Linked DNA regions of Homo sapiens. The protein of the gene in region 4 purifies or fractionates together with the protein of the main gene of each other region. This does not show direct contact. Each region holds a gene or a part of one and is shown on either strand. Other genes may lie near its edges.

Region 1 (7,020 bases), on a different chromosome or scaffold from region 4:
GAAGCAACGACCCAGAGCCGGGCTGGAAGGGAAGAAGAGGAGAAGGAGCAGGAGGAGGAGGGAGATGTGTCTACCCTGGAGCAGGGAGAGGGCAGGCTGCAGCTGCGGGCCTCGGTGAAGAGAAAAAGCAGGCCCTGCTCCTTGCCTGTGTCCGAGCTGGAGACGGTGATCGCGTCAGCCTGCGGGGACCCCGAGACCCCGCGGACACACTACATCCGCATCCACACCCTGCTGCACAGCATGCCCTCCGCCCAGGGCGGCAGCGCGGCAGAGGAGGAGGACGGCGCGGAGGAGGAGTCCACCCTCAAGGACTCCTCGGAGAAGGATGGGCTCAGCGAGGTGGACACGGTGGCCGCTGACCCGTCTGCCCTGGAAGAGGACAGAGAAGAGCCCGAGGGGGCTACTCCAGGCACGGCGCACCCTGGCCACTCCGGGGGCCACTTCCCCAGCCTGGCCAATGGCGCGGCCCAGGATGGCGACACGCACCCCAGCACCGGGAGCGAGAGCGACTCCAGCCCCAGGCAAGGCGGGGACCACAGTTGCGAGGGCTGTGACGCGTCCTGCTGCAGCCCCTCGTGCTACAGCTCCTCGTGCTACAGCACGTCCTGCTACAGCAGCTCGTGCTACAGCGCCTCGTGCTACAGCCCCTCCTGCTACAACGGCAACAGGTTCGCCAGCCACACGCGCTTCTCCTCCGTGGACAGCGCCAAGATCTCCGAGAGCACGGTCTTCTCCTCGCAAGACGACGAGGAGGAGGAGAACAGCGCGTTCGAGTCGGTACCCGACTCCATGCAGAGCCCTGAGCTGGACCCGGAGTCCACGAACGGCGCTGGGCCGTGGCAAGACGAGCTGGCCGCCCCTAGCGGGCACGTGGAAAGAAGCCCGGAAGGTCTGGAATCCCCCGTGGCAGGTCCAAGCAATCGGAGAGAAGGTTAGACCTCAAACCTGATCAGAGTGAGAATAGGACCATCAGGGGGACAAAGGTGTCACCAACAGTTTAAAAACAAGAAGGGCGGGGGATCGGTGTCAAACGGGGTTGCTGGGGCAATGTATGCCTGTCTTGTATATACATGTGTGCATGTGTATCTGTGTATGAGCATAGATGACTGTGAGTAGCTGACACCCCACAATGTCTCAGATACACACCAGGAATTACGACTGGTTGGATGTGAGCGTGCACTTGTATGTGTGCTTCTATGTTTGTTTTAACTAATCACCAGAACTGGTTAGTGTACATGTTATCCTAGTCTTAACAGCAGCCAGAGCCCCAAGACTAGTATCAAATGATATACATGGGAAAAATCTATCTACATTAAATGGATAATGTGTAAATATCTGCTGACTTTCAAAGCACATGGAAGATTAGCAATAGATGTTAATATTAGTTGAAGAACAGATTTTACCTCTGTTTTAGAATTCAACTAGCCCATGTACGTACATATAGATATGTCTAGCCTACATATATTTGTCATTATTTATGTCCACTCAATTCTTGTTATTACTGTTGGTTTTGTTTTGTTGTTGTTGTTGTTGTTGTTGGCTATTTTGGCTAATGGAAGGGAAAAATAACATGATTGTGTATAAATGACTTTGTTTCCAATAAGAATCAAATCCAAAAGCTGCCACCATTAGTTTTAAAACGTATTCTGTGTTTTAACCAAAGATGTTCTTTCTTAGTCATGCCTGTGGAATTATATGTGAAATTAATTTGCATTTCCTTATCCAGGAGTGGAAACTGTCTTCCAGTCAAGTGACAGTGGTATGACTGGGAAAAAAAATTGAAAAGTCACATAATAATATGAAATAATTCAGTTGTTTTAAAAGAGAAAAACATAGCCTCTGCTATTTTGCTGTTCTGCTGTTGAAATTAGCCTCCAACAAAAGGCGGGGATATTTTCTCTAGATTGTAAGCTCATCAAGGGCCAGAGTTGTGTTTCTTTATGTTTGAATTCTTAGCACCTAAACAAACCCCTGGTGCCTACAAATTTTTTTTTTAACAGGAGCTAAAGTGAGCATTAAAAAAAATAATTTTAAGTATTCAATAATGCCCGCTTCTACATTTCAGAAAAAGAGTGAGAGAAGGTGGCACATGCAATAATGAGAAACGCAAGGAAATTGGTAGAGAAAAAGAAACACAGGCAGAAAGGTAAAACAGACAGCATGGAAAGGTACCCACAAGGAGCGGGATGGAAAATCCCTCCTGTGAGTAGAAGGGAATGGGAAATGCCTTTCTTTCACAAGGATGTTTCGAGGACTTCCTTTATTCTAGGCCAGATGTAATGCACTGGGCGCAGGAAGATGGAGTGGCATCAGGTGATGTATGGACATTACTCGATAATTACAGCATAATTAAAATAATACAACAAAAGGAGATTGGGGGATTCCCACATAAAAGGCACACATAGGAGCTGGCAGGGATGTTGGGTTACAGAGGTCTGTAGATTTTTCCTGTGAAGAGCCAGATAGTAAATACTTTAGGCTTTGTGGGTCAAGAGGTAAAAAGCTAAATAACTGTTCTCACTAAAAAGCTTTTTTTTTTTGTATTAAAAAGTGTACTGACACTTTTCTTAGCTCAGAGCCATACAACCCTGTTTTAGTGCACAGTTTTTTGGCCCCCATGTTGGGAGATAATCTACACATGGTCAATTGAAACTTGGCTCAATGTAAATTTATATAAGATCATGTTTTACAAACAAAAAAGTCACATCCTTGCCCTTTAGAGGCCAACAGTCTAGCAGGTGGAAGAGCAGGAAGTGTTTCAGGGTCACAGTGGACATCTCTGAATTGGCACTGGCAGTTTCTAAAGAAATATCTAAGTTCCTGAACTCTGCAGAGTGTAAACTCAGAAAAGGTTAAGAAGCACCTACATGCTTCACTATGGCGATCACAAGGGGAAATAAAAAGATTCCCGAGGGGTCTCTTGATCTGCTGAAGGCCATGCACACGCTGGCATGTGACTTCTTCCCAGCCATCCTTCCCCGCCTCAGCAGTGAGTCCCCAGGCTAACCGTGTCTGCATTGTGGGACTGTCCTTCACTTGCCACCAGGCTTCACAACAGCAGATGCTTCAAGAAAGCAGGGCTTTAACATGACCTGCCTGATACGTGATTGTGTGGGTGACCTCTGCTTCCATAAAAATCCCTATTGCTCCTTCGCCTTGACTTCTAAGATTGCAAATTCCTTTACTGTAGAAACTGCATTAGACGGCTGGGTGTGTGGGCTCACGCCTGTAATCCCAGCACTTTGGGAGGCCGAGGTGGGTGGATTGCCTGAGGTCAGGAGTTCAAGACCAGCCTGGCCAACAGGGTGAAACCCTGTCTCTACTAAAAAAAAAAAAATACAAAATATTAGCTGGGCACGGTGGCGGGCACCTGTAATCTCAGCTACTTGGGAGGCTGAGGCAGGAGAATCACTTGAACCCAGGAGGCAGAGGTTGCAGTGAGCTGAGATCGTGCCATTGCACTCCCAACTGGGCAACAAGAGCAGAACTCTGTCTCAAAAAAAAAGAGAGAGAGAAAAAAAAACTGCATTAGATTAACCCAGGTGGATTTGTTGTCCACGTGCCCACATAGATAAGGCTGCAACAATTTATAGAGGAACACTGTTCTAAGTCTGAACTGACAACTATACAGGCTAGTATTCTTTTCATACTTTTTGCTTTATTTCCCTCTATAAATACCTCCTTTTTAAAAGTTTAATTTAAAATAGTTCTTGAAAGACCTTCTGCAGATAAATGAAAAGAGTAACATAATGTCATTGTTATGAGCTCAGGCCCTGGAGTCAGGCCTCCTGGATTTATATTCACTCCTCCCACTTCCTCACCAAGTTACCTAGCTGTTCTGTGCCTCAGTTTCCTCATGTGCAAAATGGGTATAATTACAGAATCTCCCTCAAAGTGTTGTTGGGAAAATTTAATGAGATGATACTACAAAAGCACTCTGCTTCCCACCAAGTGAGGGTTCTTCCAGGCAGACAAGCAGTGAGGGTAACTGTTTATATTATGTTGTATAAAGCATCTAAAACAATCCTTTGAATTTGCATTTCCTGTACTTTATAATTCAAGGGAAATTTTCACATTATTAGGTATAAATCACTTTGCTTCAAATAATATGCAAGGCAACCTATCTTTCTCTACAATTAGGTTATATTATTTATAAATAGAAGGGAATTTAAAACGACGTTGCTTGCTTTTAGCTGAGGAATAGATCTCTTTCTGGGAGGTTCTGGCGGGTTTCAACACTTGCTTTGTGTTTGAGGCAAGGGTGATGATGTGGAACCCTGTCCTTGTGCAGAATAGAACTGCTTGCTTCTTCAGTGCCTCCATCCATTCAGTCGGCTGAGACATGTTGGTCACATCATTGCATTTGCTTGGGGTTCACAAGCAGGTGGGATCAGCTGCATTAACCCCAGGCAGTCAACAATGTTGTATTTCCACTAGCTTGGAGGAGTAATTAACCTGATTGGTTGCATTAATTTCAAGAGGTAAGTCTATTGTTGATTTTAAAGAAACTAAGTTAAAAATGCAGCAGCTGATGACATAACAACTATACCATGGTTTTGTTTAATTTCTGACACTAAACATGTATACAAACAAACATGAGTGTGGTATCCACTTAAACACAGAGCCCATCTTTGGAACAGCAGTCTGTCCACAATGAACTGGGTGCCGGCATGAGGGGAACCTTCCTTGTTTTCCATTAGCATCTCCAAGGACCCAGAGGATTTGAGTAACATAGCAGAATTTGCTCAACAAATAATGTTCTATATTTAACATTTAAAAGGACCCTTTGTTCCTGAATATATCTCTCCTTCTGTTTGCCAGTGAGCTCTAGGAATTAAATCACAAAATTAAACCCACCTTTCTTCCTAATTAATTTATTTTTATTTTTGATCAGTTCCGTAGAACTAGAGTGAGAAGAAATAACCATCCTTTCCATGTGTGGATATTCTAGGAAATATTCAGCATTTGAGATCCTACAACCATTTGACCACCATTTTTCAGTCTCTCTCCTTTTTGACCCAAGGGATAATGGAACACTTGCTATTTGCATCAGCAGAGGACAGAAGAAGGAAAAGGCCTGACCTTTGCCCTCTGGCCCTTAAAGGCTTTTGCAAGAAAACCAGCATGGTGTGAGGCAGGAGGAACCATCTGAAAAAAGGGCCATCCTTTGTCCCGGGCCCTTCTCACTCTGCAAAGATCAAGAGCACTGGCCTCTGATTATGTGACCCAAGCAGCTGGTGCTGCAGGCCTGCCTTCTGCATGGCTGCTCTACATGCCTGAGGACACCACTTCAGAACATCGTTCAGTTCATTATAAGTCCGAACTGAGAACAGTATAAGCTATGTCTGTTGTAGGTTTTCTTTTAATAATCTGAGGCATGCATCCTGTGGATATAATGTTTATTTCTAAACTTTCTCCATGTTTGTCTTTCTTCCTCCTTCTTTCCCATTTCTGTGTTTTGAGCTTTCCTGTCGCCGTCTTTCTGCTTTTTATCTACTTCCTTTGTCTCTTGTCCTTTCCTCTTTCCGGAGCACCCTGGCTTGTCTGATTTCTCCTCAAAATAATCTGGACAGTCCTGAGATCCCTCAGCCCCTTGGCTCCCCTCCCCAACCCCCCAACCTCCAGCTTTCCTACTACAGGAATTTACTTTCTTGGCTCGCCAGCTCCTTGACCTGTCTTGGTACCATCTAAGAGTTCATTCCCCTCAAAAATCTGAAAAACAGCCTTTCGGCAGCCCTGTGATGAAACCTATCCAAGTGAGGAGGTGTCATTTTGCATAAGCCCAAGGAACTTTTGTGGAACCTTATAAAACGCTGCATTTCCCTCAAACAGGCCTATTTCCTCCACTGGGCTAAAATCAGGCTCTGCTAATTTTCTCTTGTGTTCCTTTCTGGTGCCACTTTCTGATTCAGGAAATTCGGGTCATTACAGAATCAGACTCAAATCCTACATATTGGACTGTGTGGCGCAGATCATTAGTTATGAAGTGTTTTGATTTTCTTCTTTTTTAAAAAAATATTTCCCCCCTCACGAATGACTGTGAATGTAGCAAACTGACACACACACACAAATGGATTTCCCACTCTTTGGGGTTGTTTCTTGTAGTGCTTAGTTTTACAGTCATGCTTTTTTGATGATGTTGCCACGGCAGTGAATGAATCTGAATGTATTGACTATCTTGTCCGTAGGTGAATGTCCTATACTCCATAATTCCCAGCCAGTAAGCCAGCTTCCTTCCCTGAGGCCTGAACATCATCACTACCCAACAATCGATGAGCCTCTTCCACCAAGTAAGCTTTAGTTTTTAAAATCTGTGTCTTAACTCTTCCTATCAAGTCTAAGCAGGTCAGTATGAATTTGTGTGTAAACATCTAAAGTCTTTCCCGACTCCGTGCCTTACAGTGTTAACAAAGACCAATATGACACCTGCTCTAAAAACTGGTGGTTTTTTGGGGGTTTTTAGTTTGTTTTTTTGACTAATAGTTTCACCATGTGATCTTGAAGAGATAACACAGTGTTTTCAGTGCCTCTCAACTTCTGAAATGGAGAGCATTTCTCTGTTAGACTTGACTAGTCTTTGCAAACTGTTCATGACCTTTAAGTCCCAAATTTTACATTTTATATTTAAAATTTGCAGTTCAAGATAGAATAATCCTATTGTTCTCCATTGGATCTGTTACGTCACAAGCATCTCCATATGTTAAAACAACTTCAACCCATCTGGGCACATGAACTTGTACTTTCCTTACTATAACTTCCATCCATAGGGAATAGCTTCAAATTTCTTCTGCAGTTCTTAGGGGTTGCCAGGCAAAATATCATCTTTAAGATAGAATTCAATGTCAGTTTCTCCTGGTAACTGTAGTGGGTAATTAATAATTATCTAACTAGTCATCTGAACTTGGGAAATTCATTTAATCTCTCAGGGACTTAGTTTTCTCATTTGTAAAATTTAAAAAATAAAGTTTAAATGTCTCCATCTGCTCAATGAAAGATTTGACCTAGATAGTCTCTAGATAC
Region 2 (7,514 bases), on a different chromosome or scaffold from region 4:
GATCTCGGCTCACGGCAACCTCTGCCTCCCAGGTTCAAGCAATTCTCCTGCCTCAGCCTCCTGAGTACCTGGGATTACAGGTGCCTGCCACCACACCCAGCTGATTTTTCGTATTTTTAGTAGAGACAGTTTTCACCATGTTGGCCAGACTGGTCTTGAACTCCCAATTCAAGACACTTTTTAAGAAAAAAAAAATACACATTATACATACAAAATGAGGTACTGAAAAGAATATATATCCAGAATTAAAAAAATCACAACAATTCGCACATTCAAAAAATCTTATAAGGCTGGGCATGGTGACTCACGCCTGTAATCCCAGCACTTTGGGAAGCCGAGGCCGGTGAATCACTTGAGGTCAGGAGTTTGAGACCAGCCTGGCCAACATGGTTGAACCCCGTCTCTACTAAAAATACAGAAATTAGCCAGATGTGATGGTGGGTTCCTGTAATCCCACCTACTCTGGAGGCTAAGGCAGGAGAACTGCTTGAACCTGGGAGGCGGAGGTTGCAGTGAGCCAAGACCGCGCCACTGCACCCCAGCCTAGGCGACAGTGACACTCCATCTCAAAAAAAAAAAACCAAACAGCAACAACAACAACAACAACAAAACAACCTTACAAGTATTAGATCACCAAATACAGAAAAATACCACGATCTTTAAATTAATTAACTGCCTGACATACCTCTGTGATATGTCTTTCCTACGTATTTTGGCTTTATACTCTTTGATTTATTCTTCATATGAAAATGATTTTGTGACATTATGTTCTATAGAGTTAATAGATATTCCAGTGTTTTCACTAGTAAAGTTGACTAAAATTTGTTTTTATTACTGATAGTTTAGAGGAGTTTCTTTTCAGTCCACAATGCATTATTGGGAAAGTAACATATTTTTAGGATTGTTTCAAAATTTAGGAAAATCACTATTAAATTTATTTCACATATAAACAATAAGATGTGGGAGGGTTTTCCATATTCTAGTTCTGAATCCGTACATACATTTCAAACATCATTTACCCCGTTACCCATATACTTCTGTGCTGGGTGCTGAAGTATGCAGTTATTAATACTTGGTGGTATAATTTCCATCCCTTTACCTTTGTGTCACAACACTGAAGGGCCCAAGTGACTGTCTTTGCACAGTCAAAATAGACATCACTGTCACAACTTTAATGCCCACAGACCACATAAATGTATTCCACTTAACCAATTCAACTTCCCTTTAGCCAGATCCCCACAAATGTCCACAATCACTCCACTTCTTTCGGAACAAGGGGAATTAGGACAACACGGAAGTTAGAATGAAAAGGGACAGCAGTCTTGTCTTAATTCAAGCTGCAATAACAAAGCATCCTAGACTGGGTGGCTTATGAACAACAGAAATTTATTTTTCACAGTTCTGGACGCCAGAAGAATGAGATCAGGGTGCCAGTGTGGTTGTGATGTGGGTGGGAAGGCCCTCTTCCAGTTGCAGACTGCCATCTTTTCTTTGTATCCTCAAGAGGCAGAAAGAGGGTGAGAGAGCTCTCTTGGGTTTCTTTTATAAGGGCATTTATTCCATCACCTCCCAAAGGCCCCACCTCCTAATACCATCACATTAGGGGTTAGGATTTCAACACATGAATTTGGGGGAGCACAAACATTCAGTCCACTGCAAATCGCTTGAGATTAAAATATCTTACTTTGGAAGCTTTTATAAAAATATAAGACCACATGAACATGTCTCTCAGGCTCCTTCTGTGTTGTTGGAAGAGGGCTGGAGTATAAGTTTCTTGGAATCTGCCTTTGGGTTTAGCTTTGGCCATATGCTTTAGAAGGAGCAGTCACAAACCTTGGCACATCTGTAGAAAGGAAGTAACCTAGGATGATGAAGGGTCAGGACACATTGCCATGTGTCCTGCATGACTTATGGGTCATGCAAAGATCTTGGAAAAGAGACAATTCAAGTGGTTCACAAGTTTGTCTTCAGTGCTTGGAGTACTCTCAGGTGGAAGAAATATTTCAACTCAATATAAGGGATCACTTCCTAATGTCAGGCCAGTTTCAATGCAGAATTGACCAGCTTGTAAAGTACTGAGTTCTCTTTAAGGGAATGGCTCCAGGAGAGGATAAGTGAGACCCGGTCAGAGATCTTGTGAAGGAGAGTGGTGGTGATGACGAACGGGGAGTGCAGTGTGAAAGAACCTACCTAATCTTTACACACCTTTGCAAGTTTGAGATTTTTAGGATGACTTTGCTATTAATGTTCTTTGATGCCTTAGTCTCGGTTTTAATGGTCGATATGTAGAAAGTTTTAAAGGTAGTAGGGGCTGCTTTTAAAGTGAGAGAAAAATGTTTTTTAAGACCTAGGGCAGCAATAGTGATTCACTTTGCCTCTATTCATTTTTAGGGTTCTTCTTTCTCCCTCCTTTCCTCCCTTCCTCCCTTCCTCCTCTTTTCTTTTCTTTCTTTTTCTGTTTTTCTTTTCTTTCTTTCTTTTTCCTCCTCCTCCTCCTTCTTCTTCCTCTTCCTCTTCTTTTTTGACAAGGTGACAGGGTCTTGCTCTGTCTTCAAGCTGGAGTGCAGTGGTGCAATCACAGCTCATTGCAGTCTTGAAATCCTGGGCTCAACTGATCTTCCTGCCTCAGCCTCCAGAGTAACTGCGATTACAGGTTCAGGCCACCATGCCTGGCTATTTTTATTTTTATTTCTTTCTTTATTTAATGTATTATACTTTAAGTTCTGGGATATATGTGCAGAACGTGGAGGTTTGTTACATAGGTATACACGTGCCATGGTGGTTTGCTGCACCCATCAACCCATCATCTACATTAGGTATTTCTCCTAATGAGATCCCTCCCCTAGCCCCACAACCCCCGATAGGCCCCTCCTCCCTGATGTGATGTTCTCCTCCCTGTGTTCATGTGTTCTCATTGTTCAGCTCCCACTTATGAGTGAGAAAACGCAGTGTTTGGTTTTCTGTTCCTGTGTTAGTGGGGTCTCACTATGTTGCCCAGATTGGTCTTAAACTCCTGGCTTCAAGAGATCCTCCTGCCTCAGGCATGATTACAGGTGTGAGCCACTGCACCTGGCCCATTTTGACTAGAATGTAACATAGTGGTTAATCAACACAAAGAAGCTAAGGATTGCAGGTGTGGGGTTGCTGGATTTGAGTAAGTTGTGAAGGAGAACATCATGTGGGAACAAACCTCTAGGATCCCTGTTCTTCCAGCAAGAACTGGAATTGGGCCTTTTGTGGGGTGGGGCTCTTTGATTCTGTGGAGGATCCTAACAGTGATGCCTGGGCTGATAGATCCAGGGGACTAAGAAGTCAGGGCTCCTCTGAGACATGTGACAAAACACAGCTGACACTGACTTGAAATAAAAGAGAGAGGATTTATTGGCTTCAAGGGTAGAGTTCACTGCAGACACATCTACCTCCTGAGGTTCCTGAGAGGGTGGGACATCACCCTCTCACCAGCAGCTTTTCTTCCCTCAAAGTTGGCTTCATTGGCATGCACTGTTGGTCCTTGTTACCGTAGGCTTATATCCTTCCAATTTAGTTATCCTAGTTTAAAGAGCTTATTTTTCTGCAGTAATACATCCAAAGCCCTAGGCCGAGTTCCTGGATCAACATGCCCAACCCAGAACCGATCACTGCGGTCCGGAAGATGACTGGCTAGTTCTGGGGGTTGAGGGTGGGAGGTGTCAGTACCCTGGAGCCACAAAGACTCATTGTGGGTGAGGGGGAAGGGCAGTTCCCATAGGAATAATGAACTGCTGTTACCAGAAAAGGCGGAGAAATGGATAATATTGAGCACACACTCAAAAGTCCCAAAGGAATGGCTATCCATTATTTGGGGACTTACTCCATATGGATATAGTTAAATTGTAAAATTGAATAAATCTTCCCTAAATCTGGACAGATGCAAGGGTGGGTGGGGAGGGACACAATATATTTACACTTTAGCATTTTTACTTTTTCTCCTACGTGGGACTGGTTGATGAAGATGCTATAGAAGTAAACAGAAAGCCGAAAGTATTAATACAGTAATTTTAAATTTTAGTGCCCTCTTTAGGCAAAGTATCTGGGAACGCTTTCAATAATCCATTTTTTCATCGTGACCACACCCTGTGTGTGCGACATGAGTATTACCGTCTTGCCCTTGCAGTTGGGGAAACCGAGGCATGACACTCCCCTATTCAGCTTTCTGGTGGGGTTGAGGAACAGTGTTGTCTGCACGACCTCAGAGGGTCTCCTCCACCCTCCGCGACACCTCTAGGAATCCTCCTGTCCTTCGACTTCGCAGAAGGAGAGCAACTCAGGCTCCGCCGCAGCCTCGGGACTCGTCCTCCGCCCAGCCGCACCCGCCCCGTTCTTCCGCACCTTCCTCAGGGAGGTCCCGCTGGCCAAGGTCTGGCTGTCCCTCCTGTCCTCTGCCCCCGCCTCCCTTCCACCGGTCCCCGACGTGCCGCCAGCTCCCAGCCCAGCGTCCCGCAGGGCGGTGCGGGCAGATGCCGCCGAAGCGTCTAGCGGGAAGGGCGCCGGCGCGGCTGGAGGTGAGGAGGCCGGACTCTTCGCTCTCCGCGGACCGGGGCACCGCGGCTGGAGCGGACGCCCGGCACCCGGGCGGGAGGAAGGTGGCGGCAGGGAGCGGCGAGAGGGTGGCGACGCAGGCGGGTCGGCGCCTGGAGAGCGAGCGGCGGGGAGCCGGGCGCTGCGGGGCCGCTCGGGGCCGCGCCGCGCTCGGCCACAAACCTCCCGGAGGCGCAGGACCCCCGGCGCCCTCCCGAGCGCGGGCGGGAGCCATGGCTTCGCGCGTCCCCGCTGCCGCTGCTGACTCGACACAATCGGCGGGTCGCGCGGGGGCCGTGGCGTAACCCGGGGGTGGGTGGCGGCGCGGAGCCGCCTCGAGAGCTCTGGGTGTCGCTGGGAGCTAGGAAGATGCCAGCACAAAGGCGAGCCGAGACCCAGCCCGCTGCGGAGGGCGGCGGGAAGAGCCGCTGAGGGGCGCGCCGAGCGCGCTCTGCCCCTGCGCCGCGTCTCTCCGGGCGCTTCTCGCGGTCTCGGGGTCGGGGACTGCAGCGCAGAGACTCTCGGCTCCGTGGCAGCGGCCGCAGCAGCCGTGAGCTGCATGCAACGCGCGGCGGCGCCCCCGGCCGCCTGCTTTCTCCTCGGCGCGCACGGACCGGCCGCAGGGCGCCGGGGCCGCGGGTCCGGGCGACTTTGGGGGCGCCCTCCCGCCCCGCGGCCGGGTCCCCACCCGCAGCTTGTGGCGACGGGCGCAAAGCCCAGGTGAGCGCGCGGCCCTCGCCGCAGGTAGCGGACGGCGGGAGGTGGCTTTGTTTTTCCTCCCTTGCGCCCCGGCGCGGTCATTCATTTGCCATTTCGGTTTCCGCTGCCCAGGATGTGTTGGATGGTTTGGTTCTCCAGGGAAACTGGGACTTTGGGGTCTATTTGAGCATCAGTTGAGGGAGAGGACGCTTCATTTCCTTTTTGGTTGGGAATGTGCCGTGAACATCCTCTGCTGGAGCTTGGGGCCTGGAGCAAACTGGGGCTGCAGATTTAGACGTAGACGTTTCCGAGGACGCGAGACTGCAGAGGTCTGACTCTCTCATGCCTTGTCTTCACTATTAGCAGCGCTCGGGTGCTTTTCGTCGTTTATTATTATTAATTTAGAGAACATCTTTACAGGCACATTTCTTTTAGAGTTAGAAGTCTTTGGAGTCAGTACAGAGAGCTCACAATTAGAGTTACAAGGGTTCAATCGATATTAAACTTCAGGAAGGAAAACATTTGTGATCATTACAGATAGAGGTGGACAGCATGCAAACTTCGGGGGCCTTTAGCTTTTGGGTTATGATTTCTGCTTTCACTGTCCTAGACTCACGCAAACTGTTTTCGTATATATATACCTTTGTGAAAGTGTGAAACTTGTCTTTTCTGGAGTAGTGTTCTATAGTTTGTCATTTAGAAGAAGAATATTTTAGTGTAATTAGTAGAGCTCTCCATGTGTTTGTCTTATAAATATGATTTTCTTTTTACTATTTCTCCTATTCCCTCGAGGGTTCATTTCTTCTGTTGCTTTGAGAGAGCTTTTTTTCTTTCTCTTCCCAACAGATGGCTGTATGTTCCAAGAGGTTATCTTTAAAATGACACACACATTATCTACAAAGAAAGAAAGATCAGTTATTGACTTTATCTTTGGAGTTATTAAAATAAAAGGCCTAATCTGGATGGGGATATTATTAATGGCGTGAAAATCTGGAGTTTGCTAATCTGTTTGGTCATCAGAAGATTCCTGCGGGGATTGTTTATATAGCGTGGGAGACAGATGGCATCCCTAGCAGACTAGAGAAGCCAGGCATAAAGGGTCATTGTATTCTTCAGAAATTATCCACTTCACTATTAGAGGTGGGGTAGGGTGGGGTGGAGGGTGGCAAAGACATTTTGATCTCTTAAAGGAGACACTGTAACGTTACTATCCAGCAGTCTAACCAGCTTTAATTTTTCTTTTTGTTGAACATTCAAAAAGTCCCAATTGAGCTATTTGTTTTGATTATTTCATTGGCACATTTTGGCTTCGATGTGGTTGTGTGAAGCAGTTTATTAACAAAAATGTCTTTGAACTTAAAAATAATCGTGCTGCTTCTGGGGGAAAATCAGTTGCACCTTTCTTAGCTCTTGTATATAAATGGCCCCTTGGACTCAAACCGTCTTCTGGCTGGAAAGACTTTAGTCTTCATTAGTTTGAATCCAGTTTCCTTCACCATCTCCGTGACAGGTGATTTCCAAATCCCCACCATTTGGCCGCAGACTCTGAGGTTTGGGCACCATGATGATTTCCCAGTCTAAGACATTCGCTTCACCATCGCCTCTATCACGGTATTGGGCAACATTTGGCAATGAATCTTTATGAATGGCTGTGGTGTCGGTAAAGAAATCAAAATCATTCTGAACATTTGAGATAAACCAGCTGGAGCTTTTCTGCGCCTACCACTGTTGTGGATTATCTATGTGTTGTGTAGATTGCAACCAGATCACAAAGCTAGTTTTCCCTCTTTATGAATGTGAAGGAAAATATTCCAGTAAATTAACATTTGCCAGCCACAGGACTAAATTTAATGAAGATTATGAGCAATGTTTGACCCCTCTGAACAGGAGACAAAAAATAAAAGTAAGCACTGGTTCTGTTTCACTTGGGCAATGTGATCTTGGGAGAAAAACCTATATTTTCTTACTCTTTTAAAAGGCTTTTGCAACACTGATTTCAGCCAAAGGCAAAGAAACCAAGGTTGTTACCTGTAGTTGAGGACAGATGCTTTGGCGTTTTCTCCTAGATGAATGTGTTTTGCAGGAGAGGTGGCTTTTGGGATCTTCCCAGTTTTAATATGTGCCTACACATCAATGAAATGATCTTGCATTCAAAATGCTTGTTAAGTCTATATGGTTGGTATCTGTGTAACCTCTAACCAGGTGGCTTTCTCTGTTGTGAAGTGTTCCTTTAAGAGAAACCAGAGGCTTCTCGCCTG
Region 3 (7,131 bases), on a different chromosome or scaffold from region 4:
AGTGGGGGCTGAGCCAGGGATGGGAGGGCCGAGGGGCCAGGCCAGGCAGGCTGGGGAGAGCCCCAGCTGACAGAGCTGGGCTTGGCATGTGCAGAGCGACCCTGAGCTGGTGCAGTGGAAGAAGGAGCTGCGCGACGCCTACCGCGAGGCCCAGCAGCTGGTGCAGCGGGTGCCCAAGATGAAGAACAAGCCGCGCTCGCCCGTGGTGGAGCTGAGCAAGGTGCCGCTGGTCCAGCGCGGCAGTGCCAACGGCCTCTGACCCGCCCACCCGCCTTTTATAAACCTCTAATTTATTTTGTCGAATTTTTATTATTTGTTTTCCCGCCAAGCGGAAAAGGTTTTATTTTGTAATTATTGTGATTTCCCGTGGCCCCAGCCTGGCCCAGCTCCCCCGGGAGGGGCCCGCTTGCCTCGGCTCCTGCTGCACCAACCCAGCCGCTGCCCGGCGCCCTCTGTCCTGACTTCAGGGGCTGCCCGCTCCCAGTGTCTTCCTGTGGGGGAAGAGCACAGCCCTCCCGCCCCTTCCCCGAGGGATGATGCCACACCAAGCTGTGCCACCCTGGGCTCTGTGGGCTGCACTCTGTGCCCATGGGCACTGCTGGGTGGCCCATCCCCCCTCACCAGGGGCAGGCACAGCACAGGGATCCGACTTGAATTTTCCCACTGCACCCCCTCCTGCTGCAGAGGGGCAGGCCCTGCACTGTCCTGCTCCACAGTGTTGGCGAGAGGAGGGGCCCGTTGTCTCCCTGGCCCTCAAGGCCTCCCACAGTGACTCGGGCTCCTGTGCCCTTATTCAGGAAAAGCCTCTGTGTCACTGGCTGCCTCCACTCCCACTTCCCTGACACTGCGGGGCTTGGCTGAGAGAGTGGCATTGGCAGCAGGTGCTGCTACCCTCCCTGCTGTCCCCTCTTGCCCCAACCCCCAGCACCCGGGCTCAGGGACCACAGCAAGGCACCTGCAGGTTGGGCCATACTGGCCTCGCCTGGCCTGAGGTCTCGCTGATGCTGGGCTGGGTGCGACCCCATCTGCCCAGGACGGGGCCGGCCAGGTGGGCGGGCAGCACAGCAAGGAGGCTGGCTGGGGCCTATCAGTGTGCCCCCCATCCTGGCCCATCAGTGTACCCCCGCCCAGGCTGGCCAGCCCCACAGCCCACGTCCTGTCAGTGCCGCCGCCTCGCCCACCGCATGCCCCCTCGTGCCAGTCGCGCTGCCTGTGTGGTGTCGCGCCTTCTCCCCCCCGGGGCTGGGTTGGCGCACCCTCCCCTCCCGTCTACTCATTCCCCGGGGCGTTTCTTTGCCGATTTTTGAATGTGATTTTAAAGAGTGAAAAATGAGACTATGCGTTTTTATAAAAAATGGTGCCTGATTCGGCTGTCTCAGACTCTTTTTGTACCTGGTGACCCCTTTTCAGCTTCTGCTGGGCTGGGGCCTGATGGGGAGGGTCTCGGTGGTACCAGGTCTCCTCCACCGCCATGGCTTCCAAGGTGGTCTGCTCGGGCCCAGGCCATCTTCCAGGTGGGGTGAGGCAGTGGGTCCCACTTCCCCTCCTACCCCTCCCAGCTGACAGTCCTCTCCACCTAGTGGCTGTCCAGTGCCCATTCCTCACCTTTTCCCGGGGAGGAGAGAGCAGCTTCTGCCACTTCCCAGGTAAGCAGGAGGAGGTGCCAACAGTGTTAGGCCTGGCACAGTGTCTGGGCTGACTGGGACCGTCTCAGGCCCACAGAACACCCCTGCACAGCAGGCACCAAGCTGAGGCCCCTCCCCAGAAACAGTCACAAGGCACCTCTTCCCTCTAGGTCACACCGCAGCCTCTGGGCCCTTGGCCATCTCTGGCTTCAGCCTCCTCTCTGGCCTCACTGCACAGCCCTAGTAGGGGTCCCTGAGGCCTGAGGGGAACCCCAGCACTAGGCCTCTCCTCTACCCAGAGGCTTCTGGTCAACTTCCCTTTCCCCAGGTCCCTGCCCTAGCCCCGCGGGTGACTAAACAGATACATGTTGCTGCCCACTCCACACAGGGCTTTGCTGGGCATGGCTGGGGCCCATGGCCAAAGCACAGCATGCCAGGCAGAGAAGGGAGGCAGGCAGCTGGGCAGGGTACTCAGGGCTGAATACAAGAGTCAGGGGCAATGGCCTTTGAGCCAGGCCTCCAGCATTGGTGTGGGAAGGAGGGAGGACATTTCTGAGGCAGGGAAGAGCCAGGGACTCATGAGTGGCCCAGGCTGGCCGGAGGACTATAGGAAGGAGCCATGCCTGGAGGCACTGAATGCCAGGCTTAACCTATCCCGGAGCCAGGTGTGTGCTCAGGGCCTGCAGAATGAAGATACAAACGACATGGAGTCCAGACCTGCCATGCTCAGGGAGCCCTTGAAGGTGCGGAACAGGGCTGAGAGTGGTGAGAGCTGGCTCTAAAGTGATTGCCTGGTTACTGAGTACAGGATGTGGGGAGGGAGGTGAAGGACAGGAGGCAGGGAGACAAACCTCCGCAGTGGGAGAGGAAGAGATGAAAAGAGGCCAGACGGGAAGAACGTGGTCCAGCAGAAACAGGCTGGACTTGGGGCTGAGTGAGGCGGGAGTCTGGGGAAGAGGGTAGGTGTGGTTGGGTTGGCTTCGGACATACTGATGGGATAGCATGGGATCCCTGGGCACAGAGATGTCCTGGAGTAAGCTGAAATGTGGACCTGGGGGTGGCATCAGGGTGACAATGGGAACGGACAGTCTCTCTCCCAGGGATGTGGGGGTCAGGGAGAGAGAGGAGGCCGTGGAAGAGGGTTGAGAAGGCACTGTCATGGAATTAAGTGCCAGTGGGGAGCTGTGTTCAAGATGGCAGAAATCAGGAGAGGCTGGAACCAAGAAAGTCCTGTCGGGGTTGAGTTTGGAGAGGGCTCAGGGAAGGGACCGCCTCTGAGAAAAGGGGTGGCCAGGGAGGGCTGCAGTAGTGGTGAGCAGGTGAGCTCTGGGCATTCAGAAGCCTTCGGGCTGCTACCAACCCCAGGACCTCACAGATTGACACCATAGCGTGGGGTGGCAAAGTGACCCCAGATGGCACAGGCGCCATGTGACTACAGGGAGAAGGCAGGGTAAAAATGGCAATCAGGCCTTCCAGCCCAGAGTCTCAGAACTGAGGACGCCCTACAGCAGGAAGTGATGCTCAAGCTAGCTGGCCCTCCTCAATCATGTTCCACGTAGGGAAAGGGAGAATAGAGGGTCAGCCTTGGCCACCTAGCAAAACCAGGGCCCCAGACCCCAGGCTGGGCCTCCAGTAATCAAGGGCCGGAACTGAGCTGACGGAGGCCTGCACCCTAGTTCCGGTGTGGGTGGAGGGGCCGGCCCTGATTTCGAAACTCGCCTTCCTCTCCTGACGCTGGCAGCCAACCGCAGCCTCTGCAAAAGGGACTCGTGCGGCGGGCGAAGGCAGCCGTTCGCCGCGGGCGGTCCTCCGCCGGGACGGCTCTGCCGCTGCCTGGGCCTGCGCCCCTCTCTCCCCGAACTCCTATCCCTGACTTCAGGGCCCCGGGGGCCGCCTCCCCGCATCGCTGGGCCTGCAGACACCGGCCAGGTCCCAGGGGAAGGTGCTTCCCGCTCAGCCGGCAAGCACTTAGTGGCGTCTGCTCGTTGCTCGTCTCCAGGCCGGGTGAGGGGAGCCGGGGCGCCCCACTTCACCCGCACACCCCAGCAGAGTCGGTGACCGCGGGACCTGGGGTAGGAAGACCGGGGCGAGCAAGGGGATCCGCGGGGGAAACGCAGGCATCACGGCTGCAGCAGGACCGCGGCCCGCCGCGCACGCGCGTGCACTACCGAGGGGCCCAGTGCCCGCCCCCTCCGGCCCCGCCTTCCTCTTCCGGACCCGGCTCCGGGGGTCTGCGCAGGGCTCGGGGCGCCTCCTGCGGGCCGCGGGCGGAGCTGTAACCGGGCACCGCCCTCCAGGCCGCCCCAGCGGACCCGGGCCCGACCGAGGTCGGGGCGCAGACCCAAGGCCGGGCATCTCCTCGGGCGCTCGCGGTTGCTCTGCCGCGCGCTGGCCTGGCCGCGGTTGCCATGGTTGCGGGGGGACGGGGGCGCGCGCGAAGCCCCGCCCCGGCCCGGCGCAGCCCCGCCCGCTCCGCCGCCCGCCCCGCCCTCCCTGCCGCCCGCGCTGCCGCCGCCGCCGCCGCCGCCGCTACTGCTGCGGGGGCCGCGGGGGGCGCAGCTGGGGCGCGGCTCGGAGGGGAGGCTAGGGGGCCGTGCCAGGCCCGAAGCCGAGGCGGGGCCGGGATGCGGCGCTGAGGCCCAGCATGGCCGGCCCGGGCCCCACCTTCCCGCTGCACCGGCTCGTCTGGGCGAACCGGCATCGCGAACTGGAGGCCGCACTGCACAGCCACCAGGTGAGGCCCCGCTGGGGCACCCGGCCCTTCCCCCGGGTCCCCCACCCAAGGCTGTGGCCTCCGTCCTGGAGCCCCCCCCCCCCCCCCGCCCGCTCAGCTCCGCAGCCACATCCTGGGCCTTCCTCCCCTGCACGATCCCAAGCCCAGGTCACCGGCCCCTCGCGCCTGAGCCTCTGGCCTCCTCTCCCCTGCGCTGGGCCTTGCCCTGCTCGCCCGAACTCGCTTCCGCATCCTTGCTGACCCAAGCTGAGAACAAGAACTCTGGTCCTGGTCCCCAGGTTCCGCCAAACTCCTGACAACCTGCAGCTCTGCCTGACCAGGCCCCGCCGCCAGACCCCGGCTCTGCCCCTGCCTTCCCTCCTGCCCCCTCCTCTCCCCTGCCAGGACACGCAGGCCACCCTCTGCCATCTCCCTGGTCAGTCCGCCGTCCTTATTTCCCACAGCGATTCCCAACCCTGCTCGCCCTGGCAGCCTCCCTGCCTTGCCCTCTTCTCTCCTGCCCTTTGTGAGTGTCCCGTCTCCCCCAGCACGACATTGAACAGGAGGACCCCCGCGGGCGGACCCCACTGGAGCTGGCCGTGTCTCTGGGAAACCTGGAGTCTGTGAGAGTGCTCCTTCGACACAATGCCAACGTGGGCAAAGAGAACCGCCAGGGCTGGGCAGGTACTGCAGAGGACAAGGGGCTCCCCCTGAGGCTGGCAGGCGGGGGGCAGTGAGCAGCCAGGCCTGGGGTCATCTGGAGGGCTCCCCTCAGCAGCCTGGTGCCCGCAGTCCTGCAGGAGGCAGTCAGCACTGGAGACCCCGAGATGGTGCAGCTGGTGCTCCAGTATCGGGACTACCAGAGGGCCACGCAGAGGCTGGCGGGCATTCCGGAACTGCTCAACAAACTTCGCCAGGTACAGCAGGGCACAGTTATGGAGGTGGGGTACCATGGCAGGGCACCACCCTGGTTACTGTGCCAGGCCTGGCCTTGGAAAGGCACCCAGTTTGTGCAGTGTGCCTCCTGCCACCAGCAAGGAGGTCTGTCTATCTTGACCCCAGCCCAGGGTCACGTAGGAAAGAGAGACGGCCAGGCTCACGTGGGAGAGACTGGACCCTTTGGAAGAGAAGCCTTGCCAGCTTTGGGCCTCCTGAAGAATGCAGATTACCTGGAGCAGGGACTTCAGGTTGACTCGGTGGATTATGGCCTGAAACCCTGGAATACTTGCTACTACGCACCCTTCTGGAAGCACACGGAGGGGCCTGGCTGGCAGAGCATACTATCTCATACCCCCTACCCCAGGAGCAGGCTCGGAGGGAGCCACTGTGCCCCCTTTACAGAGTAGGACTCTGAGACCCAGTGGAAACAAAGGCTCCCCCAGGGCTCTGCACAGGCTCATGGCCAGGTTGAGGCTGGCCCTCCACCTCCAGGTGCTTACAGCCTCATTGTCTGAAGACCACTGTAGTGCCCCACTTGGCCCACCCTCTCCAGGGCAGAGTGGTTGGGCGTAGCTGAGCCATAGCAGTGCGTCAAGACTTGATGAAGGGCCAGGCGTTGTGGCTTACTCCTGTAATCCCAGCGCTTTCTGAGGCCAAAGTGGGCGGATCACTTGAGCCCAGGAGGTGGAGACCAGCCTGGGCAACATGGTGAAAGCCGTCTCTACAAAAAGTACAAAAATTAGCTGGGAGTGGTGGCACACACCTGTGGTCCCAGCTACTCGGGAGGCTGAGGTGGAAGAATCACCTGAGCCCAGGGAGGCAGAGGTTGCAGTGAGCCGAGATTGCACCACTACACTCCAGCCTGGGTGACAGAGCAAGTCTCAAAAAAAAAAAAAAAAAAAAAAAAGACCTGATGAAGGGCTGGGCTGGCTGTGGACAAGGGGCTCCCAGGCCTGCTGGAGCCAGCAGCAGGCAGGGCGCTGACAAGCAGCTCTGGTTTCTCTTAGGCCCCCGATTTCTACGTTGAGATGAAGTGGGAGTTCACCAGCTGGGGTGAGTGGGGACCTCTGGGCTCCCAGGGATTTGGGGTGGGGCCTTTGGAAAGACCCCCAGTGACCCCTGTGCACCCTGCAGTGCCCCTTGTGTCTAAGATGTGCCCAAGCGATGTGTACCGCGTGTGGAAGCGGGGTGAGAGCCTGCGAGTAGACACCAGTCTCCTGGGCTTCGAGCACATGACCTGGCAGCGGGGCCGGAGGAGCTTCATCTTCAAGGGCCAGGGTGAGCTCTGGACAAACTCATTGCAGCTCCTCGGCCCTTGGGTTTCCTGCGGCTTGGGAGGACGGTGCTGCCTTTTCTCTCCACTTTCCAGATGTGGAAGCTGAGGTTGGGGATGGAGGGGCATCCAGGGGCCAAGACTGACCCACTTGGCAGCAGGTGGCTGAGGGTACATGATCGCCCTCTCTGCACTGCTGGCGCCCAGCACTGATTTGCGCCCCCTCTGTCCACCCCTACCGGCCGGCAGAGGCAGGAGCCCTGGTGATGGAAGTGGACCATGACCGGCAGGTGGTGCATGTGGAGACACTGGGGCTCACTCTGCAGGAGCCCGAAACACTGCTGGCCGCCATGCGGCCCAGCGAGGAGCATGTGGCCAGTCGCCTCACCTCTCCTATCGTCTCCACCCACCTGGACACTCGTAATGTGGCCTTTGAGAGGTCGGTCGGGTCCTGGCACACCGTGGGTGGGATGGGGACGGATAGCAAGAGCCACCATTAATGAGGGCAGGGCGATCCTTGAAGATCCTGGTTCAGGCCTCTGGGCTCACTCACAAGGGGCTGCTCAGGGGCAGGTGGGTTG
Region 4 (7,366 bases):
GGTTCAAGCGATTCTCCAGCCTCAGTCTTCCGAGTAGCTGGGATTACAGGCACCCGCCACCACACCCGGATAATTTTTGTATTTTTAGTAGAGATAGGGTTTCGCCATGTTGGCCAGGCTGGTGTCAAACTCCTGATATCTGGTGATCCTCCTGCCTTGGCCTCCCAAAGTGCTGGGATTACAGGCATGAGCCACGGAGCCCAGCCTAATTTTTGTAATTTTGTGTGTATATATATATATATATATATATATATATATATTTTTTTTTTTTTTTTTTTTTTTTTTGAGACGGAGTCTTGCTCTTGTCGCCCAGGCTGGAATGCAGTGGCACCATCTCAGCTCACTGCAGCCTCTGTCTCCCCGGTTCAAGCAATTTTCCTGCCTCAGACTCCCAAGTAGCTGGGATTACAGGCACCCGCCACCACACTTGGCTAATTTTTGTATTTCGTTTGTTTGTTTTTTGAGATGGAGTCTTGCTCTGTCGCCCAGGCTGGAGTGCAGTGGCACTATCTCAGCTCACTGCAAGCTCTGCCTCCCAGGTTCATGCCATTCTCCTGCCTCAGCCTCCCGAGTAGCTGGGACCACAGGCGCCCGCCACCACGCCTGGCTAATTTTTTGTATGTTTAGTAGAGATGGGGTTTCACCATGTTAGCCAGGATAGTCTCGATCTCCTGATCTCAGGTGATCTGCCCTCCTCAGCCTCCCAAAGTGCTGGGATTATAGGCACGAGCCACTGCGCCCGGCCCGATTTTTGTATTTTTAATAGAGACAGGGTTTCGCCATGTTGGCCAGGTGGGTCTTGAACTCCTGGCCTCAGGTGATCCGCCTGCCTGGGCCTCTCAAAGTGCTGGGATTACAGGAATGAGCCACCGTGCCCAGCATAGGACCTTCTTGACTCTACCCCACCATCCAGTCCCATTCTCTAAAGCACCCTCTCCTGGTCCCAGACCAGCATCACATACTTAACTCACTCCCTGCCATCTCCCCTTCTCATCCTCCCCACTAAACATCCATTCCTCCAATAGATGAGGATAATAGATAACCCATAGCCCCTGGTGCTCAAAAGCCAGATCTGTAGCCATTGTTCCCTCAGGCAAGTCTCAGCACACACACCCCTGCCCCCACCATACCTGCGTGCCCTGGCCCCTGCTCCCTTCTCACCGTATGCACGAGGTCCAGGGAGAAGATTTGGATGCAGCAGACAATAGCAGAGAGTGTACAGATTATAGCGGCACAAATGGTGAGCCCACAGACGCTGAAGAGCAGGTTCTGGGGAAGGGAAAGGAGGAGAGGAGTCAGGAGACGGCTAAGTTCCACACATTATGGGCCTGTGAGTACCCCAGCAGGGGAGGCAAGAGTGAGAACCAGGAGGATGTTTGCAGGGTGCAAGCTCACCTTGAGGGCCCCTCGGGCTTCATCACAGGTGGAGTTAGGGGCAACTTTCAGTTCCTGCCCCGACTCTGGACAGGGCCGGAGGAGGGGAACAGAGGGACAGCACACACAGACCTTTCCTTCCTGAGTGGAGCAGGGAGGGTGAGGCAGCCTGAGTCAGGACAAACTGAGGTGTCCTGCACACCTCCCCCAGCCAGTTCTTTCCAGCTCTCCCTCCTCAAATCTCACCAGAGAGCACTGTTGGAAGTCTCGGGCCAGTTGAGCATTCTTACAGGAGAGAACAGAGCCAGCCATGCTAAGCATGACACAGAGCACCGAAAGCAAGGAGAAGAAGGAGATCTGGGGAAAACAGGGTGCAGACTCAGGGCTGGGACCCTCATGAGTACTCCTCTGCCACGGACAGAGTCCCCCTCCTTCACAGACACTTCGTGCCCACCCGGCTGGCACCAACTGGGGAGCCAGTTCCCTTCTTGAGGACATAAATGGGCTTCCCCTTGCGTGCTGGGCACCTGCCTCCCAGTGGGCACTGGACCCTGGCACCTACCACTAGAGTGAATGGCCGCTTCCAGGACACAATGCCAACCACCCCGGAGAACGCCAGCTGGGGACAGAGTGGGCACAGGCTCAGCCTGGCAGGGGAGGCTCCTGAGTGAGCCCCTCACCACAGGATGCACCCAGCCCTGTAAGGAGGCAGAGGACCAGGAGAGGGAGGAGAGGCAAGCATGTGGACTTGCAGCTGGTGTGGAGGGTGGGGCCCGAGGAGCCTCCCCCACCCAACAACTGTGCACCCAACTCACCGAGAACCCAGCCCAAGACGGGCAGGACCTCTTGATGCTCTCGGTGGTGGTGACGGAAGAGGCCACCATGCTGAAGGTGACCACCAGGATGCCCAGGAGCACTTGGACCAGCCCCAGCGTAAGCAGGGCCTGCAGCCAGGGTCGGTGGAGGCGGAGGTGGGTAAGGCCCCTGGTGCTGGGCCGGCTGGTCAGCGAGCGGCTGGAGTCACTAGGCGAGGGCATCATGCCTGCTGCCCGGTTGCCTGCGCCTCGCTCGGCCCTCCCTGGCACTTGGGAGCATCTCAGAGGCGCCCAAGGCCCCGTCCTTTCTCCTCTCCACCCCACTCGCTCTAGAGCCCACCCCCTGGCTGGGTCCCCTGGGGCATGGCCGAGGGACGCCAGCTGTGGGGGGGGCCAAGCGAGGGGCGTCACGGAGGGACCGCGGAGTGCTCCCTCCCCACCACGGGCACTGGACGGGCACCGTGCCCGGGGCGACGATGAGGACGCGGGGGCACCGGCTCATCGCATCTCCCTAGGGAAGAGGGGCACCGAGAAGGGCCGGTCCAGGAGTGAGGAGGGGGCGGCGGCCTGGAGCCCAGGGAGGGGTGGGGAGGGTAAAAGCGGGAAGGATGGAAATAAGTCTAGAGAAGAGGGGAGGGGTCGGCGTGGGGTGACTCTAGAGGCGCGGTCGGTGTGCCCTCAGGGCGTCCAGTAGGATCCGGGGCCGCCTGGTGGGGAGAGGCCGCGGCGCCGCTGTCTCCTGTGTCGCCTGTCCCGCTCCCCTCCCCACCACGCTCCGCTCCCCGAGCTCCGGCTGCCGCAGGTCGGGGACTAGAGAAGGGGGATGGGAATGGGGATGGTGCGGGAAGGAGGGGCATGGCGGCGAGGGCCGGCGCGGTGCACCCCGGGAGTTGTAGTTCGGGACTGAGACCCTGTCGGGGTTGGGGGATCCCGCGGCAGGGCGAGGCAGTCGGATAAGCGCTCCTCCAGTCCCTGCCTCGCTCTGGACCCTGGCTAGGCTGCTAGTGATCCTTTGGGCCTCCACTTGAGCCCCATCCAGCTTTTCAGGCTCCAGGCCCGCGTATTCCTTGGCGTTCCCGGCAGAGGCGGTGGCTCTTCCCCGTCATTAATGGAGAGGGGTGGGGAGCAGGGCTCCCTGGCGTCTCCGGGTTTCGCGTTTCCGTGGACTTCCCACCTCCTTCCTGCGCCAGCCACTCGGGCTCCACCGCCCCGCCCCTCATATCTCCCAGTTTACACTAAAGCCGGGTCCGACCTTCCCACCTCACTCCACACTCTCCTTTCTCTTTCATAAGGCCTAATTCCCAATGAAGATTCAGGAAACGGGGATGTCAGTTCCAGTTCCACTTTCTTTTTATTTAAATAACCGAAGCAACAGCCGTGGCACAGCAGAGGGAAGCTGGGTTGGGGCGTGTGAGAGGTGGCAGCAGTGTGGCCTGATGGGGGGACTAGGTCACAGTGAACTCCCCACACGCCTGTCAGGTTCAGCAGTCATGGCCATAGGATTGGGAGCACTACGGAGGAGCCATCAGTTAGTGATGTCTCTCCAAGTCCCAGAGACCTTAGGGACGGGAGCTAAGTCAGCTCCCTCAAGTAGCAGGGCCAGGGCATCCCAGTCAGGGGTCACGGGGCCCGGAAGGCATTTTCAGCAGCCCCAGCGGCTGCATTGGCAGCTGCGGTTCGCACCGCAGGGTTGGAGAAGACACCAGCAGCAAATTCTTGCTGGGCCTTCTGAAAGCTGGCACCTGTGCGGCGGTATAAGGAGTGGATCTGCAAGTAGAGGACAAAGACATTACCGCCCATTCCAGCCACTGGTTCCCCACCCCAGCCTAACAGCATCACTACCACTCAGCAGCCTGCTGCCCAGCACACACACTCACACACAGAAACACACACCCCAGAGGTCCATTAGCTGAGAACAACCCAGCAGCCTGACCTGTGCCAGTTGCTCCTGAATGTTCCACCCACGCCCCTGGGGACCCATGATCTCACCATCCCGGCCCCACCTTCGACACAGCCCTCACCCGTTTCAGCATGACAATTCCTAGCACAGCAATGCCAGTGAAGAGCAGGGCGACCAGCAGCATGAGCACGGATACTGCTGTGTTGCCCTTCGGCACCACCAGAGCAGAGATCCAGCCACTGTAAAGGGAAGGATGTACCAGTGAAGAGGGGCTCCTCAGCTTCTCCACTGGTTATGTCACCAGCATCCCCTGTTCCTACCCTTCCCATCAGCAGTGGCTCCCTGTCAATCGAGCAGCATTCCAAGCACCACAATCCCAAACTGTATCTAATCTCTTCATAGTTTAATTCCAGTTTCTGAACCATTAGCCCTGAGCTCTCCAAGCTCTTCCAGGCACTCATCTGGGGATTCTTCTTCCTCCTTTCAACCATGGTTCTATGCCTCCTCCAGGAAGCCACCTTAGATTGGCCAAATGCAGCATTCTTCCCTTCAATCTATATGTGTCAAGAGTGCTGTCTGCGCTCTATCCTGGAAGTATGTCTTGTATCTCATTAAACTAGTACCTCCCAAGGATTAAAACCACATTTCCTTTTTCTGAACAACTCCTATCCCAGCACCCAGTGCTGGCTGGATCTAGAGGGAAAGGTGAGGGTGGATAACAGCCTCACAAACCTGAATCCCCAACCTGGGATACCAATGGCCTGGAGGACAAAGAGCACATCCTGGACGAAGAAAATGAAGAAGAAAACGAAGAAATTGAATGAACTGTCACTCCTACAAAGAGGAAAAAAATGGGGAGGGTGGGAGAAGAATTAGAGCTGAAGGATGGGCAGACGTGGGGCCCATCCCAGGTCTCCATCACTCTCCCACCACTAACACACTTACCGGAAAGCCTTATACATGGGGCGGTACCAGCAGACAAAGGAGCAGGGAGTGAAAAGGAGGACCCAGAGGATAGAAAGCCCAAAGCCTGCGCCATTGTTGGTTTCCACACAGAAGCTGGCCAGGCAGGCGAGGAAGTTCAGGAGAAGAGCCAGCGTGCTGCCTAAGGGGCAGAGGGACAGGATGAGGAGCCCTTCTGGACTGCAATGAAGGCTCCTTCCCATCTATGCTCATCCTATAATATTCACCAAACATGGCAGAGTAAGGAAATGAAGGCAGCTGCTGCCTTCATGGAATCCTCAACAGGGGAGATGGAGAAAGCAAATGTCAATAATGTGTGATCCCCTTGCAAAGACATTTTTTTTTTTGAGACGGAGTCTGGCTCTGTCGCGCAGGCTGGAGTGCAGTGGCGCAATCTCAGCTTACTGCAAGCTCCGCCTCCCCGGTTCACGCCATTCTCCTGCCTCAGCCTCCAGAGTAGCTGGGACTACAGGCGCCCGCCACCACGCCCAGCTAATTTTTTTTTTTCTTTTTTTTTTTTTGAGATGGAATCTCGCTCTGTCGCCCAGGCTGGAGTGCAGTGGCAGGATCTCGGCTCACTGCAAGCTCTGCCTCCTGGGTTCACGCCCATTCTCCTACCTCAGCCTCCTAAGTAGCTGGGACTACAGGCACCCGCCACCACGCCCGGCTAATTTTTTGTATTTGTAGTAGAGACGGGGTTTCACCGTGTTAGCCAGGATGGTCTTGATCTCCTAACCTCATGTTCTGCCCACCTGGGCCTCCCAAAGTGCTGGGATTACAGGTGTGAGCCACCGTGCCCGGCCTTTTTTTTTTTTTTTTTTTTTTTTTTTTTTTTTTTGAGATGGAGTTTTGCTCTTGTTGCCCAGGCTGGAGTGCAATGGCATGATCTTGGCTCATTGCAACCTCCACTTCCCGGGTTCAAGTGATTCTCCTGCTTCAGCCTCCTGAGTAGCTAGGATTACAGGCATGTGCCACCACGCCCAGGTAATTTTGTATTTTTAGTAGAGATGGGGTTTCTCCATGTTGATCAGGCTAGTCTCAAACTTCTGACCTCAGGTTATCCACCCACCTCAGCTTCCCAAAGTGCTGGGATTACAGGCGTATACCACTGCACCCAGCCCAAAGACATCTAAAGAATTCAAAATATATTCCTGCATATGGACAATAAAAAGTGGGGAGAGGGCAAGAACATTTGCTAGCAGGCTGGTGAGTTCTAAATAGAGGTGAAGTGTTTGGTTCTTGGTGAGCGGACCCCAGGGCAGTTAAGAGATCTACCTGTAACTTCCTCCAAAAGGCTTCTCACTACTCACACATCCAGAGGTAGTACATGGTGGATACAGTCTTCTGAAATTCTTGGGGGATCTCCATGGAGATGTCCTGGAAAAAGCAGGGCTGAACTGGACAAAAAGAAGGTAGAGGGGGCCAATTGTTCTGTCGAGCTGTAAGGCACAAAAAAACAGGTGGACCCCAGAAGTAAAACAGAGACCAACAAAGGAATCACTCCCCCTTCTCTCCATCCCTGGATCCTCTCTTTTTTTTTTTTTTTTTTTTTTGAGATAGGGTCTCTGTTGTTCAGGCTGGAAGGTAGTGGTATGATCATGGTTCACTGTAGCCTCAACCTCCTGGGCTCAAGCAACCCTCCCACCTCAGCTTTTTTTTTTTTTTTTTTTTCTCCTGAGATAGAGTTTCGCTCTTGTTGCCCAGGTTGGAGTGCAGTGGTGTGATCTTGGCTCAGTGCAATCTCCGCCTCCCGGGTTCAAGTAATTCTCCTGCCTCAGTCTCCTGAGTAGCTGGGATTATGGGCACATGCCACCACGCCCAGCTAATTTTTGTATTTTTAGTAGAGACAGGGTTTCACCATGTTGGCTGGTCCTGAACTCCTGACCTCAGGTGATCCACCCGCCTTGGCCTCCCAGAGTGCTGGGATTACAGGCATGAGCCCCGGCGCCTGGCCGTCCACCTCAGCTTCTTGAGGAGCTAGGACTACAGACAGGTACCATCATGCCCTGCTAATTTTTTTCATTAATGTTTTGGAGGCAGGATCTCACTATGTTGTCCAGGTTGGTCTCTAACTCCTGAGCTCAAGCAACCTGCCTGCCTCGGCCTCCCAAAGTGTTGGAATTACAGGCGTGAGGCACCATACCCAGCCCTGGATCCTCTCTTTTATCTCCAATTTGGGGTCCAAGGAGACAAGTGAGAGTGGAAAAATTAATACTGTTTATTATTATTTAAAACATCTAAGCACTGTACCAAGTACTTCACATATATTTTGTTTAACCTTCACAACAACCCTGTCAAACGGATGCAAACGTGG

The links.
Region 1: the proteins of ENTREP3 (region 4) and HECW1 purify together in Homo sapiens (co-immunoprecipitation; 3 studies listed by BioGRID and IntAct, with this or other methods). This does not show direct contact.
Region 2: the proteins of ENTREP3 (region 4) and HECW2 purify together in Homo sapiens (affinity purification with mass spectrometry; 4 studies listed by BioGRID and IntAct, with this or other methods). This does not show direct contact.
Region 3: the proteins of ENTREP3 (region 4) and ANKRD13D purify together in Homo sapiens (affinity purification with mass spectrometry; 3 studies listed by BioGRID and IntAct, with this or other methods). This does not show direct contact.

Annotation. Positions count from the first base shown.
Region 1 is NC_000007.14:43,444,640-43,451,659, forward strand, and holds part of HECW1 (E3 ubiquitin-protein ligase HECW1), read left to right. Parts: coding exon 1-931; intron 932-6,188; coding exon 6,189-6,290; intron 6,291-7,020. UniProt on the Homo sapiens protein: E3 ubiquitin-protein ligase that mediates ubiquitination and subsequent degradation of DVL1. Also targets the mutant SOD1 protein involved in familial amyotrophic lateral sclerosis (FALS).
Region 2 is NC_000002.12:196,590,535-196,598,048, reverse strand, and holds the start of HECW2 (E3 ubiquitin-protein ligase HECW2), read left to right. Parts: upstream 1-4,494; 5' UTR 4,495-4,541; intron 4,542-5,065; exon of another isoform or gene 5,066-5,585; intron 5,586-7,514. UniProt on the Homo sapiens protein: E3 ubiquitin-protein ligase that mediates ubiquitination of TP73. Acts to stabilize TP73 and enhance activation of transcription by TP73. Involved in the regulation of mitotic metaphase/anaphase transition.
Region 3 is NC_000011.10:67,285,192-67,292,322, forward strand, and holds the start of ANKRD13D (ankyrin repeat domain-containing protein 13D), read left to right. Parts: upstream 1-4,111; 5' UTR 4,112-4,269; coding exon 4,270-4,359; intron 4,360-4,474; exon of another isoform or gene 4,475-4,886; coding exon 4,887-5,022; intron 5,023-5,116; exon of another isoform or gene 5,117-5,130; coding exon 5,131-5,255; intron 5,256-6,284; coding exon 6,285-6,330; intron 6,331-6,411; coding exon 6,412-6,555; intron 6,556-6,799; coding exon 6,800-6,989; intron 6,990-7,131. Other genes in the region: GRK2 (beta-adrenergic receptor kinase 1), read left to right, coding at 95-259. UniProt on the Homo sapiens protein: Ubiquitin-binding protein that specifically recognizes and binds 'Lys-63'-linked ubiquitin. Does not bind 'Lys-48'-linked ubiquitin.
Region 4 is NC_000001.11:155,252,464-155,259,829, forward strand, and holds the start of ENTREP3 (protein ENTREP3), read right to left. Parts: upstream 3,021-7,366; 5' UTR 2,415-3,020; coding exon 2,190-2,414; intron 1,994-2,189; coding exon 1,937-1,993; intron 1,732-1,936; coding exon 1,621-1,731; intron 1,516-1,620; coding exon 1,396-1,515; intron 1,270-1,395; coding exon 1,162-1,269; intron 1-1,161. Other genes in the region: SCAMP3 (secretory carrier-associated membrane protein 3), read right to left, coding at 3,810-3,956, 4,211-4,328, 4,822-4,923, 5,035-5,194, 6,363-6,491.